Linked DNA regions of Homo sapiens. The protein of the gene in region 2 interacts with the protein of the main gene of each other region in a pairwise test. Each region holds a gene or a part of one and is shown on either strand. Other genes may lie near its edges.

What was found. The genes of interacting proteins can lie anywhere in the genome.
Region 1: the proteins of MAP3K20 (region 2) and ZNF71 interact in binary tests that used the Homo sapiens proteins (3 or more experiments, as listed by UniProt).

Annotation. Positions count from the first base shown.
Region 1 is NC_000019.10:56,592,995-56,596,740, reverse strand, and holds the start of ZNF71 (endothelial zinc finger protein induced by tumor necrosis factor alpha), read right to left. Parts: upstream 1,440-3,746; 5' UTR 1,313-1,439; intron 1-1,312. UniProt on the Homo sapiens protein: May be involved in transcriptional regulation.
Region 2 is NC_000002.12:173,225,813-173,229,558, reverse strand, and holds part of MAP3K20 (mitogen-activated protein kinase kinase kinase 20), read right to left. Parts: exon of another isoform or gene 2,413-3,746; intron 1-2,412. UniProt on the Homo sapiens protein: Stress-activated component of a protein kinase signal transduction cascade that promotes programmed cell death in response to various stress, such as ribosomal stress, osmotic shock and ionizing radiation.

The DNA.
Region 1 (3,746 bases), on a different chromosome or scaffold from region 2:
TCACTTAGTCTGAGACTCAGTTTCCCCATCTGTAAGATAAGGATGATGATGGTCTCTACCTCAGAGTTACTGGGACATCTATAAATGGCCAGCACTGGCTGCATACACATTCCCTGAACAAATCAACCTCTCCTTGGTCAGAACAGAGTAGGGCACAGAGACCCTTTGGGAGTCTGATCCCACTTTAAGAAGATCCTGTGGGAGGCAGAAGAAACAGCCTTCCTTTTCCCCTCCTCCACCCGGCCCCTGTCACTCCCAGGCCCCTACGCCTCCAGAGCCTTCTATGGGCAGGAAAAAGCCAGGGAACTGTGGGCAGGCAGACTAGGAGAAGCGTAGGGTGAGAAGGTAGTGGCTCTGCTAGGCTCCCTTGTCCAGGCATATAGTCTTTGGAAGAGGCACACCCAGACGCACCCACCCCTGCAGAGTCACACGCAAACATCAAGAAATACTCTAGACACAGGTGGACACACAGAGATAGGAAAGATCCAGACAGGACTGGCCCCTGGAAAGACACAGCCCTACACTCATGCCAAGAGACATGCATGGAAAGAGCAGACATAGTGGACACCCAGAGGGCACCCTCCCACAGAGACACTCATGGACAGAGATCAAGGCTGACACACCCACAACACCAAAGACAAGGACACAGGCAGTCACTCAGAGATATCACCACACATGCATAGGCAGAGACCTGGAGAGACACAGCTCCACAGAGAGACCAAGACTCTGAAGAAGTGGGACACACACACACACACGCTACCACACATGACCCACACGGACATACATGGACACATTCACATTCATTCACAGACCCAGCCTCTGGACGACACGCAGTTTCTCTCTCTGTCTCATACACACACACACACACACACACACACACACACACAAACACACACACACAATCACAATATCCAGAGACACAGCCATACCCTCAGGACGACACAATCTGTCTCACACACACATACAGACCCACACAGACACACACACAGACACATTCACAATATCCACAAAGACACAGCCTCATCCTCAGGATGATATGCACTGCCTGTCTCTCACACAGGCCACCTTCCCCCCAGGATGGCCCTCGTGTTCATGCAACTTTCCTACCTCCAACCCACTCACGCCTCTCCCTCCCTGGCCCCGGCCTCTCCTCAGCCCCTCAGCCTCCAGTCAGCCTCTCCTTAGCCCCTCAGCTTCCCCTCAGCCTCTCCTCGGCCGCTCAGCCTCTCCAGGCGCACCTCGGTCCCGGCCTGCACGCCCTCTCCTGCGCCCGCACGCCCTGGACCAGCACCCAGCCCTGCACTCCCCGTACCTGGGCCTGCACGCCGTCTCCCCGAGGCCGCGCCCTCCCCGGGGCCAGGTTCCGGCCCCCGGCACAGGTAGAGGGTGGGCGCGACCCCGCAGCCACACTCACCGGCTCGCCGCTCTGCCAGGACAATGACCGCGCCCGCTAGGCCCGCCCGACGGCAGTGCGCCTGCGCGGACTGCGCCGGACTACGCTTCCCAGAAACCCGCGCGCGCCACCTCCCCCCGGCTTTTTTCAGCCGAGCCCAGCCGAGTGGAGCCGAGCGGAGCCAACTGAGCTCCTCCATCTCACAGAGGACTCCGCGGCCAAGGAGGCTGGGGCGAGAGGGAGGATTGAGGGGGAGGAGGCAGGGAAAGGGAAGGAGAGAGAAGAGACGGAGGGAGGAAGGGTGGAAAGAAAGACGGAGGGAAAGGAGGGGCGAGGAGGAGGGACAGGAGGGAAGGGGGGAGGAGGGAGAAAAGAAGTAGGAGAGGTGGGAAGAAGGATGGAAGGGGAGGAGGGATGGGGAGGAGCGGGGAGAAGAGAGAGGATGGAGAGGGACTTGGGGAGGAGAGCTGGGGAGGAAGAAGAAGAGATGGAGAAGGAGGAGGGGTTGGAAGAAGGATGGAGGGGAAGGAGGAAGGGCTGGGGAGAGACTAAGGGAAAAGAACAGGTCAGAGAGGAGAGGAACCAACAGAAAGAAGAGGGAGCGGGTGGGAGGAGGGAGGGGCAGGGAGGCAGGAAAGGAAGAGAATGGAGACGGCAAGGAGGAGAAGGAAGAAAGGGTGGAAAGGGGGATGAGAAGGTGGAAAGGACTATAAGGAAGAAGAAAAGGGTGGGAAAAGGAGGAAAGAAAGAGGAAGTCGAGTTGGGGAGGGCAGGACAGGCTGAAGAGAGGAAAGAATGGGTAAGGAGAGGGAGGAGGGAGGAAGGAAAACAGAAAAGGACAAGGGATGGGTGGAGGCAGAGAAATGAGGGGGATAAAAGAGGCGTGTCACATCTGCTGCAGACATTTCTGCAGTCCAGCCAATGGACTGGCCTGAGGGACCATCCCAGGCAACTTTAAACCTGATAATCATGCTTATCTTTAAAGAACACTTTTTAAGCATACAGATGTGCAAAGAAGAAAATGAGCATAGGTGTAGAATAAAATGTATAGGAGACTATCGGTTTGGACTGAGTTCCTGCACTAGGCCCAACAGATCAAATCGAAATGGAGCTACTCATGCTGAAGTTCCAGGCCACCAACTCCAACTAAGTTGTTACCTGACCTCCTCTCAGGAGAGAAAGAGAGAGATAATAGCCAAGTCCCAAACAGGCCAGTTTAGCAGGCATGATAAAAGAAATCCCCTTTGCTTTAACCATGATAGGGAAAGTAACTTTGAAATGACCCATCCACTCTTGTTCTCTGTTTCTGCTTTCCTCAGCCCGTTTCTGTGTATGAAGCCATATTCCTCTGCTTGGATCACCAGAACACTAGTTCTATTTTATAGAAGGAGGTGTGGCTGGATTCTAGAATTGCAAATAAAAAACAACTAGATCTTTAAATGTCAATTCCCTATATCTTTAGATATAAGAAAAAAAGCATTAATCCTTGTTGTGAGTTTCCTTTGTTCTGACCCCTGGTCTCCACATTTTATGATTTATAAACAATCTTCACAGCCAAGCTACTTTCCAGATTAGTTGGGTAATACAGACAGGGGAGCTTACACAAGAGGAAAGGTAGGAACCAGATGCCTGGCTGAGACCCTTTTCTATAGTAAACCACAAAGCCAAGTTTAAAAACATTTGCTGAATGTCCAAGTGGCCACAAAACCATCAACAGCAGCTAGCCTTAGGTGGTGATTAATGATGTATTTAAATGAAATATTTTATTCTGAGATAAATGTGGATTTATTCACGTCAGGTTGTAAAACATAATATAGAAATCATACAGAGAGACCTATGTCTCTTAGGTAATTTCACCCAAGGGCAACATCTTGCAATATCACAAGTAGGATACTGACGTCGGTCCATTCAAGAGACAGAACATTTCCATCACAAGGATCTCTTCCGATATTTCCACAAGGATCCTTCATCTTGCCCTTTTATAGCCACACTCACTTTCCTCCAGACTCGATCATTAGTCTATCCTCCATATATACAATTGTGTCATTTCAAGAATGTTATACAAATGGAATCATACAGTATGTGAATGGTGGAATTGGCTTTTTTCATTCAGCACAATTCTCTGGAGATATATTCAAGTTGCTGTATAGAGAGAACTTAATTATCTTGCATAACAGAAACTTTATACTCGTTGAGTAACGTCTTCTCACCTCCCCCAGCCCCTGGAAACCACCATTCTAATTTCTGTTTCTATGAGGTTGACTATTTTAGATTCCACATGTAAGTGGAATCATAAAGTATTTGTCCTGTGACTGGCTTCTTTTACTTAGCATAATGTACTCAAAGTTTATCC
Region 2 (3,746 bases):
AATGGAAAACAGTTTTCCTGACCTTAAGAGGCAGTTCTCAGTGCTCCAGTAATGTTCACCAATCTCTCAGTAACAATTCATGTACTTTGGGAGCTGTATCATATTCCTTTGTTGGTACCTGGTTTTTACATCCCACAATCAAGCCTCAGCAGTCAAGCAATTTCTGACATTTTCTCAGAGACCTAGAGTCTTCCTCAGAGTCTCAGCCAACATGAGGACTGTTGGATTATTAATGAAAATTCCAAAGCAACCACTTAGTAACCAGATCATGTATTATGCCTGTTCTCAAGGGGGAATTTCTAAGTGTTGAAAGATCTCATTTGCACAATATTTTAAAAACCAAATGTTAGCACTCACGGATGAAGAAGGACATGGGAAATTGGTACGGTCCTAAGAAACCCAGGCTGCAGAGTTGCTCTAACTAAAACAGATTAAAATACCTCCCTGTGAGGTTCACAAGTACAAATGAAGATGCCTCCAGAGGACTTCAGCCTGCACCATTTTCAGAGCCAAAGAACTACTTACTGTCTTCAATATATGCCCCATGGCCATCTAAATAATAAATGCTTACATAATTTTTAGAAGTCTGTGTGTCCTATAAGTCAAATTAGAGTTTGGTACAGCTATTAGCTTTAACTAGCCTAACTTGCCCCCCAAAAATGAATTGCTTATGAGATAATATGGCAAATTGTCACTCATCTTCTGTTACAAATATTTTCTTGTGAGTGAGTTTCAAAAAAAAGTTGAGTTTGGTTGCTTTTACTGTTAGTATAAAAATCATAGGGTAGGTGAGTTAACCTTTCTAACTTACAGGTATTTTGTACCCACATGCTCAAAATTCTGCTAGGAAAGGCACAGCCCCTGCCTTCAAGGAGCTTTCAATTTAACTGGGACTAATACAGTTATAAATTATACCTGGGGGATTCCAAGGTCACCTGAATCTCGGTTTACTTAATGCCTAACATAGTGCCTGGCATACGGTATCTGGTAAATTTTTGTTGAGTCATTTTAAAGAATGAATAAAATTAAAGGGTGCATTTACTGGAATGCTAAGTTCTCTGGTATAGAGTTCAATGTCTATGGGTATACCATAGACAGATGTATTCACAAAGGGATTCATAAAATAAGATGGGAGAATGGAGGGCAGCACGGCTTGAGCTGGGTCCTTCAGGGCAAGAAGAGAGGTGATTCCGGGTAAAGAGAAGCAACAAGGCAAAACCTGGCATGGCGGGAGAGGGAGGGACAGGAGGGAAGGATGGGAATGGAAGGCAGTGAGTTCATGTTGGAGGAAAAAGGGTAAATGAGGCAGACAGGGTGGGAAGGCAAGCGGAAAAACCCACTAGCTGAAATGGATATGAATGTTTAGGTTTGAGTATTTATAGACAAGTTGTCAGGACATAAAGTACACACTGAAATCGATCCTGTTCTGCGTATACTCTGCTACCTGCATGTGCTTCCCTTCCCTCCAGGGTTGCCCTTGCCTCCTCGGAAACACTTGAGGTGGGTAGGAGTCATCACACACATTCACTTGCTTTAATAATGGGGAAAGGAGAAAGATTTGAGGAACAGAATCTAAAGCTGAACTGGATCAAAGAAAAATAGGTGACAATTTTGTCTCTTCACAGGGCAGCTGGACACAGCTGCAGAATCATGCCATTCCCTTCTCCCATCACAGAAGCAAATGTGAAATACGAAACTTTTTTGGTTCGTTCAAGAAACAACAGTCTGAGTTACAGAAATATTTTCCTGCATCAAGGCTCACCTTTATAGAAACTGGGTTGGGGGGAGGGGATGTGTAGTGTTATTTTTATAAAATTCCTAAATGTTGTACTAAACAAAATTGAGAAAGAAGTATTTTTTTGAATAGAATAGAAGTTGTAAATGAAATAACTAATCACAACCAGAATCTTTGGTTTTAATGTTGAAAGGAGAGGGGGTTGGTTGCACACTGAGGATGGTTCTCCAATACGATGCCTAGGGAAAGGCACTGGCTTCAGCTGGACGCTCACTCCAGCAGGATTCTTTGCACAATGCTAGCAAAGATCAGTGAGAGGAAGGCTGGAGCCAGGCACTGCTTCATGACAGCTTGAATTTGGCAAGACGGGGGATAAGAGTTAATGATCTCCAGCCACAGAGTGGCTTACCATTTCCTTTATGTTTTCTGTACCTTGTTAACATATCAGTGTATCTGCTGTAGGATGAGTTCTAAGCCTTTCTTTCTTTAGGGAATAAAAAAAAAATCCACCCCATGACTGTCCCATCACTTTACAAATTTATTATTTACACTCCCACTGACTTTAGGAGAGAAAAGCTAACACTTGTTTGCATGCGTGTGACAACGATTCCTTCAAAGGATGTTGGGAATCCAATCTAACAGGGATCTTATATACACAGCAACACGTAACAAAGGGATTTACTGTCAAAACGTTTATTGCAAAATGGAGTCTTAGAACAAAGGAAAGCAAAGAAAAGTTCACATCAAAATGAAATGTATGACACCAACTTGGATTTCTGAATACACTGTGGACTTTGTGCTGGAATATCAAATTCCAACTATAAAATCAGTAACTGAAATAGTCTTACCACACAAGAGTAAAATTTAATCTTCCATACAAACATTATACAAGATATTTGGCATAGGACTTGCTCAGAATAACATTGCAATAGAATAATTGAGAAAAAGTTTTTGTTAAAAAAACAATAAAGTGATAATGCCATCTATTCAAAGCTCACACTCAAAGAATATAAATATTTTCTATTATTTAGTACAAAAATTTTAAGAGTGCAAAAGCAATATGTGCAGTGTATCATATCTGACATTAAAAGATATACTATTCTGCACACAATATAAAATAATTAATGTAGGTGCTTGGAACTCTAGTTTTGAAGTAAATAATCACATGCCAGAAAGCTCCTCACAGGCAACAGAGTGCAAACAAAGGTGGAGTCTGAGAAAACACGGCTAGTCTTCTAGATTTCCTGATGGATACTCATTTTTCATCATAGAAATGCTGTATCTAGAGCTGTCAGGCTATGCTACAATCGAGAGGAGAGAATAGATTTTTATGTCTGGCGATGCTTAACACTTAAACAGGAAAACAGTCTTACTCAAAAGCAGCAAAAGGTGCCTGATTATAGAAAATTTATGCTCTGTTATATATGTGGTATGATGAAACTCTGCTACTTTCAAAAGGCTGCAATAAGTCTAGTACAATAATTTTTTAAAGTATTAATATTTAACTCAGAATAAGTTTTAAAACTGTCTTTCATAAAACTCTTACCATTCCAATGAAAACTCTGAAAAATAAAGTTGTACGCACAGTAATTCTGGGAGGTCATTCTGGATCACTCCTAAACCCTCCCCCGACCCCTAATTCCTTGATTTTTAATGGGGATCAAGTTTGACTACCTTAGCTGGTGTTTAAAAGTCTAACAAATTCACTGCACGTTAAAAATCACTGGTTAAAAACCCACCCTCAACATTTCCAGAGCACCAAAAACAGTGAGCTGTAGGCTTTCAACGTCTTTTCACTGGTTATGTAAAATAGTAAAATGTAATTTTGCTTTCAAAAATGAGTAGAAAAAGGAGGCTTTAAATTAACCTATAGAACTGTAGCTATCTCAATGAGTTTTTTTTCTTTTTTTTTTTTAATTGTGGAATCAGTGTAATGGGAAAGTGACCTGCCCTGGTGCATTTGGCTGTTTCATCAAGTTGCCACCAGCATTTCTAAGGAGAAAGAAACCAT